2 separate regions of the Homo sapiens genome follow, and region 2 is linked to region 1. The links come from fine-mapping of genetic effects on gene expression. Tissue or cell type: cerebellar hemisphere. Region 1 holds a variant in brackets; the other region holds the start of a gene. All regions are shown on one strand. Distances are from middle to middle.

Region 1 (8,103 bases):
AATCACATTACAGAATGGTGTGTCTGGCCTGGGCATGGTGGCTCACATCTGTAATTCCAGCACTTTGGAAGGCCGAGGCAGGCAGATCACCTGAGGTCGGGAGTTCGAGACCAGCCTGACCAACATGGAGAAACCCCATCTCTACTAAAAATATAAAAATTAGCCAGAAGTGGTGGCGGGCACCTGTAATCCCAGCTGCTCAGGAGGCTGAGGCACGAGAATTCCTTGAACCTGGGAGGCAGAGGTTGCAGTGAGCCGAGATTACGCCACTGCACTCCATCCTGGGCGACAGAGACAAGACCCTCTCTCAAAAAGACTGGTGTGTCTGGAGGAGAGGCAGAAGGCTAAGAAAGACAACAGGATAATGGTGAAATGAACAGAGGCAAGAGCAAGAGAGGAATACTCTGGCCAAGGGAGGGAAACGCAATGCTTGTGCTTTCGTAAAATGGGAAGAATACCACAAAAGTACATGACACTGAAGTTCTACGCTGGAGACGGTGAGAACTCAGACTCTTACTTTTGGATTTGCTCTTACTGGAATCCTCTGTACCCAGGCCTTCACTTAGGGGCTGCTGGCACGCTTTCGCCAGCCATGATACATGCAGGGGCATGCAAATGTGGTCAACTTACAAGAATAATGGAACCATGTAAGCATGATTACAAAGTGGAATGCTTTAACATATTGGAACGTGCTTGATTCTGAATTGAGTTATCTTCTTCTTTCCCTGCACCCTCCAGGCCTGTTCCTGCAGGTGCCAGGCTTAATCAAGCTGAATCAAGGTCAAAGACAAAATCCACAGGCCTCCAGAACACCATTCCCTCAGGTCTTAATGACTTCATCTGCAATGCTAGACAAAAAGGAGTATGGCTCGCGTGGCGATAGGACAGACACTAGTTCAGAGGAGGAAGCAGTGAGATTTTTACTTTCAGTTTCCAGGATATTAGATAGAAAGTTTCCTTTGCAATATAGAATTTCTGGGTCAACTATAGGTAATTCCTTCCCCATAAGATCACCATAAGCTATAGTACACACCAAGATTTCTAAGTATTACAAAATGCTGGTTCCTGAATAATTTTCCTACCTCTTTTGCAAAAGTATTTCAGTCAGCTCCATTAAAAAAAAAAAAGGCCAGATGCAGTGGTTTATGCCTATAATTCCCATATTTTGGGAGGACAAGGCAGAAGGGTTGCTTGAGTCCAGGAGTTCAAGATCAGCGTGGGCAACATAGCAAGACCTCATCTCTACAAAAAAATTTTTTTTTTTGAGACAGAGTCTTGCATTTTTGCCCAGGCTGGAGTGCAGTGGTGTGATCTCAGCTCACTGCAAGCTCCGCCTCCAGGGTTCACGCCATTCTCCTGCCTCAGCCTTCCAAATAGCTGGGAATACAGGCGCCCGCCACCACACCTGGTCAATTTTTGTATTTTTTAGTAGGGCTGGGGTTTCACCGTGTTAGCCAGGATGGTCTCAATCTCCTGACCTCATGATCCACTCGCTTCGGCCTCCCAAAGTACTGGGATTACAGGTGTGAGCCACCGCGCCCGGCCTCTACAAACGTTTTTTAAAAGTAGTAGGGTGTGGTGGGACAGTGCTTATAGCCCAAGCTACTCAGGGGGCTGAGGTGGGAGGATTGCTTGAGCCTGGGAGGTTAAGGCTGCAGTGAGCTGTGATCACGACAGTGCCCTCCAGTCTGCTCAAGAGAGTGAGATCCTGACTTCAAAAAAATAAAAAATAAAAATAAAAAACTTGGTGTGTTTTAGTACTGCCAGTGTTACTCTATACTCAGCCTTAAAATCTCCTGTGCTTAAGGACTGCAGGCCTTTAAATATTTTTCCCCCTGGATTGAGGATTAAGGTTGGAAAATTCACCCTCCAAAAAATAAACCCAATGAATAAGAATATAAAACTGTACACAGTTAGCTATGTATGAAGTAACTCGTCCTAAAAATTGGTTTATAAATATGCTGCTACTGAGATCACAGTGGCCTAATTATCATCAAGAATCTACTGATCTAAGCCAGGTGTAGTGGCTGATGCCTGTAATCCCAGCATGTTGGAAGGCCAAAGCAGGAGGATCACTTGAGCCTGGGAGGTCGAGGCTGTAGTGAGCTGAGATCATGCCACTGCACTTCAGCCTGGGTGACAGAGTAAGACCCTTTTCAAAAAAAAAAAAAAAAGTTACTGATCTAAATATAACCTAAGAGGGCCAGGAGTGGTTGTTCACCCCTGTAATCCCAGCACTTTGGGAGGCTGAGGCAGGCAGATCACTTCAGGCTAGGAGTTCAAGACCAGCCTGGCCAACATGGTGAAACCCTATCTCTACTAAAAATACAAAAAAAATTAGGCAGGTGTGGGGGCACGTGCCTGTAGTCCCAGCTACTCGGGAGGCTGAGGCACAAGAATTGCTTGAACCTGGGAGGCAGAGGTCGCAGTGAGCCGAGATCACATCACTGCATTCCAGCCTGGGCGACAGAGCAAGATTCTGTTTCACAAATAAACAAACAAACAAACAAACAAACAACCGTAAGAAATCTTAGAAACAGCAAAGTGAGACCACAAAGACAAATGAAGGGTGGCGGGAAGATATTGTCAAGGAAAAGGAGAGTTAAGTGATGCACAGGTTGTCAATGTCACCTACATGGTCCTGGTGGGAAAGGTGTGACATCCCAGCACTATGGGGGAAAAGCATCAGGATAGTGAAGGATGACATACAGTTGCTGGAGGCAAACACACCTCTGCCCAGTTTTCTTGATCAGATGTCATTCATAAAAACAACCTTCTGAATCCTAATTTGGTCTCTTAAGGAGGTCTTACTCTAGGCAAATAAACAATGGTAGGTTTGGCCAGGTGCGGTAGCTCACGCCTATAATCTCAGCACTTTGGGAGGCCGAGGTGGGCAAATCACTTGAGGTCAGGAGTTCGAGACCCCTGGCCAACATGGTGAAATCCCGTTTCTAGTAAAAATACAAAAATTACCCAGGCGTGGTGGTGCACACCTCTAATCCCAGCTGCTTGGGAGGCTGAGGCAGGAGAATTGCTTGAACCTGGCGGGAGGCAGAGGTTGCACTGAGCTGAGATTGTGCATTCCAGCCTGGGTGAATAGAGAAACTCTGTCTCAAAAAACAAACAAACACACAATGGCAGGTTTTCAGCTAGATAGCACTCCTCATTTTAATTAATAAACTGGTATACTGGTGCACAAAGTCTCTCGTATGTGACTTCTGAATCTAATTGCCAGGCCAGACCTACTCAAGGTGCAGCCATTAGGTGAGGCCTGGTCTGCCAGCTCTGGCACATGCCACCCTCTCTCTGCAGAAGAGACTGGCCATCTAGGTCAGAGGCTTCTGCTCTGACAGGTCAATTTCAATAATAGAAAAAGTAAGAGGCCAGGCACAGTGGCTCATCTCTATAATCCCAACACTTTGGGAGGCTAAGGCAGGAGTTTAAAGACCAGCCTAGGCAACACAGTGAGAAATCTCTACAAAATATTTTAAAAATTAGCCAGGTGTGGTGGTGCATGCCTACAGTCCTAGTTACTAAGGAGACTGAGGTGGGAGGACTGCTTGAGCCCAGGACTTGGAGGCTACAGTGAGCTATCATTGCACCACCGTACTCCAGCCTGGCGACAGATAGAGACCTGGTCGTTAAAAATAAAATAGGGCCGGGTGCAGTGGCTCATGCCTGTAATCTCAGCACTTTGAGAGGACAAGGTGGGCAGAT[C/A]ACCTGAGGTCAGGAGTTCGAGACCAGCCTGGCCAACATGGTGAAACCCTGTTTCTACTAAAAAAATACAAAAATTCGATGGGTGTGGTGGCACACGCCTGTAGTCCCAGCTACTCAGGAGGCTGAGGCAGGAGAATTGCTTGAACTCAGGAGGCGGAGGTTGCAGTGAGCCGAGATTGCGCCCCTGCACTCCAGCCTGGGCGACAGAGCGAGACCCTGTCTCCAAAAAAATAATAATAAAAATAAATAAATAAATAGGGCTACAGTCTGGCAAGACTTAGCTGAGTACTCAAGAAGGGAACAGCTCTTTCTCAAAGTTAAAAACCCAGCATACACACCTTGGTGAGATTGTTTTGATAGATGGCATTCAGGCGGCTCACATAGGCATCCCGCTTTTCCTTAATAACACTGCAATGAAACCCAAGTCAGTATTCAGAAACAGGATCTTCCCCTTCTAGTTAGTAACTAAGGCATCTGTCCCTGAACACCCCGAGCAGAGAATCACTGACTGTCAACAGCAACCGCAGTGAGTGAATGTCTCCGAAGACAGTCATCCCTTCCCTGTGTCATTCTGCTGCCCCATGTGTTAAAAGCCTCTGTGCCACTCAGTGGAGAACACACTCAGTTGGCATCATCTTTCTGCGCAGAAGACAAGGAGAAATGTTTTGGCAAAGTGCCTAGAACATGATGTGCACAGGACGTGGTGGGCACTTAATAAACACTTGCTAAATAAATAAATTTGCTAAATTTCTTCAAAACTGTTAATGGCTTCAAAGGATTTACAGCAGTTCCTTAAATAGTTAAACACAAAACTACCATACGATTCGGCAATTTCACTTCTAAGTACAGACCCAAAAGAAACTGGAAGCAGAGACCTGAACAGATACCCATATACGAATGTTCATAGCAGCATTGTTCACAATAACCAAAAGGTAAAAACAGGCCGGGCGCGGTGGCTCACGCCTGTAATCCCAGCACTTTGGGAGGCTGAGGTGGGCGGATCACGAGGTCAGAAGATCGAGATCATTCTGGCTAACACAGTGAAATCCCGTCTCTACTAAAAAAAATACAAAAAATTACCCAGGCATGCTGGTGGGTGCCTGTAGTCCCAGCTACTCAGGAGGCTGAGGCAGGAGAATGGCGTGAACCCGGTAGGCGGAGCGTGCAGTGAGCCGAGATCGCACCACTGCACTCCAGCCTGGGTGACAGAGTGAGACTCCGTCTCAAAAAAAAAAAAAAAAAAGGTAAAAACAACCCAAAAATTCACTAACAAATGAATGGATAAACAAAATGTGGTTTTATCCATATGAAGAAATCTTATTCTGCCTTTAAAAGGAATGAAGGCTGGGCACAGTGGCTCACACTTGTAATCCCAGCACATTGGGAGGCTGAGGCGGGAGGATCACTTCAGCTCAGGAGTTCAAGACTAGCCTGGGCACCACAGTGAGACCTCATCTCTACTAAAAACAAAAATTAAAAAAAATAGGCAGGCATGGTGGCACGTGCCTGTAGTCCCAGCTACTCAGGAGGCTGAAGTGGGAGGATAGCTTGAGCCCAGGAGCTCAAGATAGCAGTGAGCTATGATTGCACCACTGCACTCCAGCGTGGACAACAGAGCAAGACCCTGTCTTAACAAACAAACAAAAAGGAATGAGGTTCTGATACATACTACAACATGGACAAACCGTGAAAACAAAATACACTAGACATAAAGGAACAAATATTGTATGATTCCACTTATATGAGTTCCCTAGAATTGGCAAATTCATAGAGACAGAAAGCAGAATAGAGGTTCCCAGGGGCCAGGGGGAGAAGAGAATGAGGGGTTATTGTTTAATAGAATAGTTTCTGTTTGGGATAGCAGAAAAGTTCTGGAAGTGGTAATAGTGGTGACGACTGTATAACAATGTGAATGCGCTTAATGGCACTCAATTGTATACTTAAAAATGGCTAAACTGTAAATCTCGTATTGTGAATATTTACCGCAATTCCTCCTCCATCCCTAAAAAAGTTTATGGCTCAGTTATAAAAGAAAAATATCTACACTTGGAAACTGAACCCTCTGAGTGTTGACACTTACCGCCAATTGAATTTACCCTCACAACTTGGAAAGCCATAATCAGCATGATCATGCATGAATTCAGAGTGGACAGCTGTGTTCCACATTACCTGTAAAAAAAAAAAAAAAAAAGGATCCAAAACAGCAGTAAATCAGTCCTGAGGGAAAAAAGGAATCATGAATGAATGGTAACTAGGTAACAGCAGATAAAAATACTGCCCTTTAAATTAAAAACAAACCTAGCTGGGCACGGCAGCTCACGTCTGTAATCCCAGCACTTTGGGAGCCCGAGGCAGGTGGATCACTTGAGGTCAAGAGTTCGGGACCAGCCTGGCCAACATGGCAAAACCCCATCTCTATTAAAAATACAAAAATTAGCTGGGTATGGTGGCACACACCTGTAGTCCCAGCTACTTGGGAAGCTGAGGCAGGAGAATTGCTTGAACCCTGAGGGCAGAGGTTGTAGTGAGCCAAGATCACACTGCTGCACTCCAGCCTGAGTGACAGAGTCTCTGTCTCAAAAGATAAAATAATAATAATAATAATAAATAAAATCTACTATACCTTGCTAACTTAAAACATTTTTTTTTAAAGAGATAAGGGGAAAGCTATTAAAAACAGACTAAAAAGAAACAAACACAAGGCCGGGCACAGTGGCTCATGACTATAATCCCAGCACTTTGGAAGGCAGAGGGAGGTAGATCACTTGAGGTCAGGAGTTCGAGACCATCTTGGCCAACATGGTGAAATCTCATTTCTAATAAAAATACAAAAAAAATTAGCCAGGCATGGTGATGCACGCCTGTAGTCCCAGCTACTTGTGCTGAGGCAGGAGAATCACTTGAACCTGGGAGGTGGAGATTGCAGTGAGCTGAAATCACACCACTGCATTCCGGCCTGGGCAAGAGTGAGACTCTGTCTCAAAAAAAAAAAAAAAAAAAAAAAAAAAAAAAGAAAAGAAAAAAAAGAAAAAAAAATATATAAATGAACATACATAAATGTCTACCGCATGTGATCAGAAGGAATAAGTAAATATGAGACTAAAACATTACAAAATCAGTTTACTGTGCAGTATTAGCCCAGTGGTATATTTAAAAAAAAATAAACTTGTACCAATCAACACGAAATTTACCACCATAACTGGTTTAAACTACATAAAACCACCTTATAATTAATTTATATAATTCATACAGTCATAATTGCATGGCTCCAAGTAGAACAGATTACAAAAAGTATGACTAATAGGAAAGGAAATAGTTGAGGGAAAATGTCCCAGAGAAGAAAAGTCTTCCTAAGACAGAAAGAAAAACACCTTACCTATACCACGGAAAAGACTTCAAAAAGACTTTTTGGAATTAAACTCAGGTATGCATCACTGATGAGATTAGGAGATTTGCTTATATAATACCAAAAAGATGACAAGTTAAAATGGAATGTCATTAATAAAGGTGGTAAGCTTGAGATTACAACATATGTTGAAAGTACATTCAAATGAGTGGTAAAATTCTTTGCAAGTATAAGCAAGAGGCAGCTTTACAAATAAGAGCTGCTGTTTTTTCCTCTTTGTCAAGGGTAAAAAAAATGAATTCATTCAATGTGACCTGCACCACAGATATTAACAACGAAAAAATCACTAATGTGATACAGAAAATCCATGAACCCACAGAACTTGAGAAGATTCCATTCAACAGTTTGGTTTGCTGGCTGGGTCTTTTTGCTGAGAAAAAACTATCCTGTGGTGTAGATGACCAGGCCTTGGCTGGGGTCTGTGGCTCATGCCTATAATCCCAGCATTTTGGGAGGCTGAGGTGGGCAGATCACCTGAGGTCAGGAGTTCGAGACCAGCCTGGCCAACACGGTGAAACCCCCATCTCTACTAAAAATACAAAAATCAGTCAAGTGCAGTGGCGCACGCCTGTCATCCCAGCTACTTGGGAGGCTGAGGCAAGAGAATCACTTGAACCCAGGAGGCAGAGGTTGCGGTGAGCCAAGATCGCGCCACTGTACTCTAGCCTGGGTGACAAGAACGAAACTCCGTCTCAAAAAAACAATAATAATAAAAATAAAAAGTAATTAAAAATAAATAAAAAAATTTAAAAAACACAAATCAAACAAAAACAATCCTATTGCTTAAGCTACTTTTAGTAGGGTCTAGGGGTTTTTTTTGCAGAAAGAATTTTAACTGATCTATTTGGAAACATTCTGATTTTGATTATGATTTACCAAATAGAAAAAGGATTGTAAAGGGAAAGAGAAATAAAAATTCTACCTTTTTGGGTACACATCCAACATTCACCTGGAAAAAAAAAAAAGAGACACACTTTAAG
Region 2 (8,103 bases), 20 kb after region 1:
GTAATCCTAACACTTTCGGAGACCAAAGCAGGAGGATTGCTTGAGTCCAGGAGTTCAATACCAGCCTAGGCAATGTAGTGAGACCCTATCTCTATAAACTGAAAGGAAAAGAAAAAGAAAAAGACAGAAAGACAAACTTCTATTGGGCATCGCCAAGGGTGAGATCTCAATCCTATGGCTTACCACAAAACTACTTTCACTGAGTCACTGGTTTGCTCAAACCCACCCCTGCCCCCATAGTTCACTGTGTGTCCAGAAACTCCACATTTTTCAAACCACAACCTACCCATCAGCTTCTCATCTCTTATTTCTATTAAAGAGACACTCTGTGCTCCAAATTTGATTACACAACATATCCCGTTTTGATGCCTAGGCCTGGGACCCATCTTTTGAGGTTCCGAATGTCAAAGAATACTACCCAACCCCCCACCTTTTTTTTTTTTTTTTTTTTTTGAGACAGAGTCTCACTCTGTTGCCCACACTGGAGTGCAGAGGCATGATCTTGGCTCACTGCAACCTCTGCCTCCTGGGCTCAAGTGATTCTCATGCCTCAGCCTCCCAAGTAGCATGTGCCACCACACCCGGCTAATTTTTGTATTTTTAGTAGAGACGGAGTTTCACCGTGTTGGCCAGGCTGGTCTCGAACTCCTGACCTCAGGTGATCTGCCCACCTTGGCCTCCCAAAGTGCTGGCGTGAGCCATCACGCCCAGCCTAGATGGTTACATTCTTGTGAGGTTCTTATGAGCCTCAGTAAATCTACATTTTACATAAGATAAAGTAAAAGTGAAAAGCAGGAGTAGAGGAGATAAGGCTATGACATGGGATTGTGAAATTACAGCTGTCTGTTTGGGAACAAAAGGAAAAGCAGTATTTGTGTGATTCAGTTCCCAAGCTGAACTTTCCTTCTGGCATACTTTGGGGTTCCAATATTTTTTTCTTTCACAACCACAAAATTCCTTAAGGGAAGGGACATGTCTCACAAATGTTTATATCTATCGTTTTCTCCCTACCCACCCCCAATCCCAGCACTTAAAATACAAAAAATGGGACAGGAGTGGTGGCTGATGCCTGTAATCCCAGCATTTTGGGAGGCCAAGGCAGGCCGACTGCTTAAGCACAGGCATAAGAGACCAGTTTGGGCAACATGGCAAAACCCTGTTTCTAAAAAACAATAAATAAAATAAAAACAGGCCAGGCGTGGTGGCTCACGCCTGTAATCCCAGCACTTTGGGAGGCTGAGGTGAGCGGATCACAAGGTCAGGAGTTCAAGACCAGCCTGGCTCTACTAAAAATACAAAAGTTAGCTGGGTGTAGTGGCACCTGTAATCTCAGCAATTTGGGAGGCCGAGGCAGGAGAGTTGCTTGAACCCAGGAGGCGGAGGTTGCAGTGAGCCGAGATTGCACCACTGCACTCCAGCCTGGGTGACAGAGCAAGACTCCATATCGAAAAAAAAATAGATAAATACATTTTAAAAATAAAAAATTAGCTGGGTGTGGTGGCTCATGCTTGTAATCCAAGCACTTTGGGAGGCCAAGGTGGGTGGATTACCAGAGGTCAGGAGTTTGAGACCAGCCTGGCCAACATGGCAAAACCCCATCTCTATTAAAAGTACAAAAACTAGCCGGGCATGGTGGCATGCACCTGCATTCCCAGCTACTCGAGAGGCTGAGACGGGAGAACTGCTTGAACCTGGGAGGCAGAGGTTGCAGTGAGCCCAGATTGCACCACTGTACTCCAGCCTGGGTGACAGAGTGAGACTCCCTCTCAAAAAAAAAAAAAAAAAAAGAATTCATAACAGGAAGGTAAAGTGGGTGAACCTCTGAAGCACATTATAACATAAGTAGAGAAAGAGGAAGACAGAGAAAATGTGGAGAGCAGAACAGAAGTGAGAAGTGATCAAGTACTCTCATGAGGTGTGGGAGGGGGGCACTTAGTGGCACCCCACAATCTGCCTTCTGGAGAGACAGATTTCTAACCTTCTGTCTGGACTATGGTGTCAAAGTGCAAGTTGATAATTAACAGAGATTTTTCCTTTCTCTTCATCTCCATGTTCATCTCCAAGGCACTGAACAATGAAGTCAACCTTTTCATAACTGTCCATTTTTAGTTTCATTCATTGCACAAGTGCTTATTGAGCAAGGGATTTTAAGGTGATAAGAGACACACAAACACAGAAGCCCATCCCTGTCCTTAAAGAGCTCCCAATTTGACATAATTTAAATATTCATCTCCAAAGGAATTTAGAGAACCTATCCCAAATCCCAGGTTCCTCTTGGATACAGCATTTTAATCGTCAACACCCAAATCTTGTGATAGAAAAGGGCGGGCACACCAATAACTTGGAAACAACATTTATTTTTAGAATGAGTGCAGTGGCTCAGGCTTGTAATCCCAGCACTTTGGGAGGCTGAGGCGGGAAGATCGGTTGAGTCCAAGAGGTTGAAATCAGCAAGGGCAACATAGCGAGACCCCCATCTCTACAAAAAATAATAATAATTAACTAGGCGTGGTGATTAGCCCCCTGTAGTTCCAGCTACTCAGGAGGCCAAGGTGAGAGGATCCCTTGAGCCCGGGAGTTCGAGGCTGCAGTGAGCTATGATGGCCACTGCACTCTAGCCTAGGTGACAGGGCAAGACCCTGTCTCAAAAAACAAACACAAACAAAAACCCTTATTTTCAAAAATTATGAATTTTGTAAATCTCAGGATTTACATCCCTCTGTTTTTAGTTTTGCAATCCACATAAAACCAAGACAAAACAAAAGCTCTGAGAACTCACCTACTCAAGGTCGCCTTGGCTGCAATTCAGATCACCCGAAAATCCCAAAGCCCAGGCTGCACTTCAGACCAATTAAGTCGGGAAACATCCCAAAGCCCAAGTGCACCTCAGACCAATTAAGTCGGGAATCCAGGCACCCTCAGGTGATTCGAATGTGTAGCCAAGGTTGACAACAACCGCTATAAATCATTCTGCCCTTGAAACGGGAGAACCAGGATCTACATTTTTCAAGAACCAGGATCTATGGCACCGTCACCCTCGTCCCTACACACAGGCCACCAGCAATGTTCCCAGATGCAGTTTTGTGTTTCACGCGGTCAAGAACAGAATCCAATCCTCTCCCACTTGGACAAGTGAGGATGGAGGAAGGTTAATCTAACCCGCCCCGGCCCTGGTCAATATCGCATCCGTGCGGAAGCAGACGCTGGCTCGGCTTTGCGGGCCGCAGAGAAGCCCCCGGACGCCTCTCTCTCCTCCACCTGCTGGGTTCCTGGCTTCGGAATGGGGAGTTGCGGGGGTGGAAAAGAGGAAAGCCCAGCGCCGGGGGACAGGATCGCCATAGGAACGAGCACAGGCTGTCCCCCGAAAGACCGAGACAAAGAGGCGCCCCCCGCCCGAACAAACCGGCGGTACTCACGCAAGTGCCACCCAGCTTGTGGCTCTCCACCACGGCGGCCCTGGCACCCAGCTCGGCCGCCCTGCGCGCGCTGGCCAGCCCGCCCGAGCCGCCCCCGATCACCAGGTAGTCATAGGAGGCCACGGCGCCAGCAGCGGGCGGCGGGCCCTGCGGCTGCGGCTCCTGCCTGCAGGCCATGGCACGGGAGAGGGCGCGCGTGAGGGCCGCGGGCTCGGGCAGAAGCAGCAGGAAGCCTCGGAAGGCGCGCGCCGCCCGCCGCCAGCTCGGTCCCGCGCCGGCGCTCAGGGCTCGGGGCAGCAGGGCCATGCACGCGGAAGTGGCGCGCCAAGTGGGGCGGGCGGCCCGGGGGCGGTCCCCGGGGTAGGGGGGCGCGGGCCCCGGGCAAGCGCAGCCTCACGGTGACTAAGCATGCGCCCGCCGCTAGGCAAGACCCAGGAGGATGCCCAGAGGCGGGGCCGCCTCCCAGTTCCCCGCCCCGGTGGCGGAGCCTGAGGGGTTTCTCCGCCTCCGTTCTCACCCCGGCCCCTGGATCCCGAGCGGCGCCTGCCGCGTGTAGCCTTCTGAAGTCCGGTGGATCGAGGCGAGGAACGGTGAACGTCCTCTCGTTTCAGCTGGCTTTTCCCGAGCTGGCCCCCTGGGGAGTTGCCAGTGGCACGGCTTCTCCAGGAAGAGAAATTTGCCTCTATTCGAAGGGTTGTTTGTCCAGGTTTGTTCCAGAGACCACTTTTGTTTGTTCTTGCTTTTTCTTTGAGACTGGGTCTCACTCTCCCCCAGGCAGGGGTGCAGTGATGCGATCTCTGCTCACTGCAGCCTCCACCTACTGTGCTCAAGCAGCGATCCTCCCTCCTCAGCCTTCCCGGTAGCTGGGAACTACAGGTGCCCGCCACAGCGCCCAGCTAATTTATTTATTTATTTATTTAATTTTTTTTTTTATTTTTTTTATTATTTTTATTTTTTTTTTAGAAATAGGGTCTCACTATGTTACCAGGACTGGTAGGGAACTCTTGGCCTCAAGCGATTCTCTCACCTCGGCCTCCCAAAATGCTAGGATTATGGTATGAGGTCACCACTTCTCCTGTTGTCCTTCTCAGTTTCTCCCCAACCTCCCCTTTTCCCTAGTTTATAAGACAGGAGAAAAGGGAGAAAGCAAAAAGTTGGAAAGAAACAGAAGTAAGATAAATAGCTAGACGACCTTGGCACCACCACCTGGCCCTGGTGGCTAAGATAATAATAATATTATTAACCCCTGACCAAAACTATTGGTGTTATCTGTAAATTCCAGACATTGTATGAGAAAGCACTGTAAAACTTTTTGTTCTGTTAGCTGATGTATATAGCCCCCAGTCACGTTTCCCACGCTTACTTGATCTATTATGATTTTTTCACGTAGACCCCTTAGAGTTGTAAGCCCTTAAAAGGGCTAGGAATTTCTTTTTCGGAGAGCTCGGCTCTCAAGACGCGAGTCTGCCAACGCTCCTGGCCGAATAAAAAACCTCTTCCTGCTTTAATCTGGTGTCTGAGGAGTTTTGTCTGTGACTCATCCTGCTATATTTCTTGGTTCCCTGACTGGGAAGCGAGGTAATTGACGGACAGTCGAGGCAGCCCCTTAGGGGGCTTAGGCCTGCCCTGTGGAGCATCCCTGCGGGGAACTCCCGCCAGCTTGAGCGACGCGGATCCTGCGAGCGCTCCTGGGTAGGCAATTGCCCCGGTGGAACGCCTAGTCAGAGCAGTGCGTGGCAGGCCCCCGTGGAGTATCAACGCAGTGGCTGAACACCGGGAAGGAACAGGCACTTGGAGTCCGGACATTTGAAACTTGGTAAGACTGGTCTTCGGAACTTGCCCACTCCATTTGAGTGGAAGCATGGCCTGATCACCCACGGCGTGCCTGTACTGGCACTTTGGTTTTTGTTTTTGACTTGACTTGAATTGCTTGACACTTTGGTTTTGGTTTGACCTGGCTTGGATTACTGGATACTCTGATTTTGGTTTTGATTCTGGTTTGGTGAAAACTGAAAAAGTGCGTGTGTGCCCTTTTTACCCATTCTTTGTTTTGTGGTGTGCGTTTGGTGTGAGCTTGGTGTTTTGTCTTGAGGAAACACGGGTCAGACACAAAATAAGCCTACTCCTCTAGGAACTATGTTGAAAAATTTTAAGAAGGGATTTAATGGCGACTATGGGGTTACTATGACACCAGGGAAACTTAGAACTTTGTGTGAAATAGATTGGCCAACATTAGAAGTGGGTTGGCCATCAGAAGGAAGCCTGGACAGGTCCCTTGTTTCTAAGGTATGGCACAAGGTAACTGGTAAGTCAGGACACTCAGACCAGTTTCCATACATAGACACTTGGTTACCACAGTGGGTAAGAGGGCAGGCAGCAGCAGTGCTAGTAGCAAAGGGACAGATAGTCAAGGAAGGATCCCGCTCCACCCACCGAGGGAAATCAACTCCTGAAGTTCTGTTCGACCCAACATCAGACGATCCATTGCAGGAGATGGCAAAAGTCATCCCAGTGGTGCCCTCCCCTTACCAGGGAGAGAGGCTCCCCACTTTTGAGTCCACAGTGCTTGTGCCTCCGCAAGACAAACATATCCCTAGGCCACCCAGAGTAGACAAGAGAGGAGGTGAAGCCTCAGGAGAAACCCCTCCCTTGGCAGCTCGTTTAAGACCCAAAACGGGGATACAAATGCCCTTGAGAGAGCAGCGGTATACTGGAATAGATGAGGATGGGCACATGGCGGAGAGGCGTGTTTTTGTGTGCCAGCCCTTCACCTCTGCCGACCTTCTCAACTGGAAAAACAATACCCCGTCCTGTACTGAAAAGCCACAAGCTCTAATTGATTTGCTCCAAACTATTATCCAGACCCATAACCCCACTTGGGCTGATTGCCACCAGTTGCTCATGTTCCTCTTTAACACAGATGAAAGGCGGAGAGTGCTCCAAGCAGCAACTAAGTGGCTAGGGGAACATGCACCGGCTGATTACCAAAACCCCCAAGAGTATGTAAGGACCCAGTTACCGGGAACCGACCCCCAGTGGGACCCAAATGAAAGAGAGGATATGCAAAGGCTAAACCGATACAGGGAAGCTCTCTTAGAAGGATTAGAGGGGAGCCCAGAAGGCCACAAACGTTAATAAGTTCTCTGAGGTCATTCAGGGAAAAGAAGAAAGTCCAGCACAATTCTACGAGAGACTGTGTGAGGCCTATCACATGTATACTCCCTTTGATCCCGATAGCCCTGAAAATCAACGCATGATTAACATGGCTTTAGTTAGTCAAAGCGCAGAAGACATTAGAAGAAAACTGCAGAAACAGGCTGGGTTTGCAGGGATGAACACATCACAATTATTAGAAATAGCTAACCAGGTGTTTGTAAACAGGGATGCAGTAAGCCGTAAGGAAAACCGCAGAGAGAATGAACGTCAGGCCCGGCGAAATGCCGAGCTGTTAGCTGCAGCAATTAGAGGGATCTCCCACAAAAAGGCAAGGGAAGGGGGGCCCCGGGAAAGAAACTCAGCCTGGCTGTCAGAGCTTGCAGCGTAATCAGTGTGCTTATTGTAAAGAAATAGGACATTGGAAGAACAAATGCCCTCAGCTAAAAGGAAAACAAGGTGACTCGGAGCAGGAGGCTCCAGACAAGGAGGAAGGGGCCCTGCTCAACCTGGCAGAAGGGTTATTGGACTGAGGGGGACCGGGCTCAAGGACTCCCAAAGAGCCTATGGTCAGGATGACAGTTGGGGGTAAAGACATTGATTTTCTTATAGATACCGGTGCTGAACATTCGGTAGTAACCGGCCCAGTCGCCCCCTTATCCAAAAAGACTATTGACATCATCGGAGCCATGGGAGTTTCAGCAAAACAAGCTTTCTGCTTGCCCCGGACTTGTACTGTAGGAAGACATAAAGTGATTCATCAGTTTTTGTACATGCCTGATTATCCCTTGCCCTTGTTGAGAAGGGACTTGCTTAGCAAACTGAGAGCCACTATCTCTTTTACAGAGCACGGCTCTTTGCTGCTAAAGTTACCCGGAACGGGAGTCATTATGACCCTTACGGTCCCCCGAGAGGAGGAATGGAGACTTTTGTTAACTGAGCCGGGCCAAGAGATAAGACCAGCTCTGGCTAAGCGGTGGCCAAGAGTGTGGGCGGAAGACAACCTCCAGGGTTGGCAGTCAACGAAGCCCCCGTACTTATAGAAGTTAAGCCCGGGGCCCAGCCGGTTAGGCAAAAACAGTACCTGGTCCCCAGAGAAGCTCTTGAAGGTATCCAGGTCCATCTCAAGCACCTAAGAACCTTTGGAATTATAGTTCCTTGTCAGTCTCCATGGAACACTCCCCTCCTGCCTGTTCCCAAGCCTGGGACCAAGGACTACAGGCTGGTACAGGATTTGCGCTTGGTTAATCAGGCTACAGTGACTTTACATCCAACAGTACCTAACCCGTACATATTGCTGGGGTTGCTGCCAGCTGAGGACAGCTGGTTCACCTGCTTGGACCTGAAAGACGCTTTCTTTAGCATCAGATTAGCCCCTGAGAGGCAGAAGCTGTTTGCCTTTCAGTGGGAAGATCCGGAGTCAGGTGTCACTACTCAGTACACTTGGACCTGGCTTCCCCAAGGGTTCAAGAACTCCCCCACCATCTTCGGGGAGGCATTGGCTCGAGACCTCCAGAAGTTTCCCACCAGAGAC

What was found. PIP is the estimated chance that this variant, and not a neighbour inherited with it, causes the effect.
Region 2: it holds the start of GSR, and the variant in region 1 is fine-mapped to the expression of GSR in cerebellar hemisphere (GTEx, PIP above 0.99).

The regions. Positions count from the first base shown.
Region 1 is chr8:30,704,017-30,712,119 of GRCh38, forward strand. It overlaps GSR (glutathione-disulfide reductase), which reads right to left. Exons shown (of 13, transcript NM_000637.5): 2 at 8,046-8,072; 3 at 5,798-5,886; 4 at 4,056-4,125. Among named protein-coding and RNA genes, the nearest start is that of GSR, 20 kb to the right of the region's middle. The variant C/A (reference allele first, on the strand shown) is at 3,718.
Region 2 is chr8:30,724,114-30,732,216 of GRCh38, forward strand. It overlaps GSR (glutathione-disulfide reductase), which reads right to left and starts at 3,733. Exons shown (of 13, transcript NM_000637.5): 1 at 3,417-3,733. The coding sequence starts at 3,722. It also overlaps a transcript of UBXN8 not described here. RefSeq lists silencers at 190-249, 3,394-3,833, 3,904-3,993 and enhancers at 2,631-3,318, 5,081-5,605.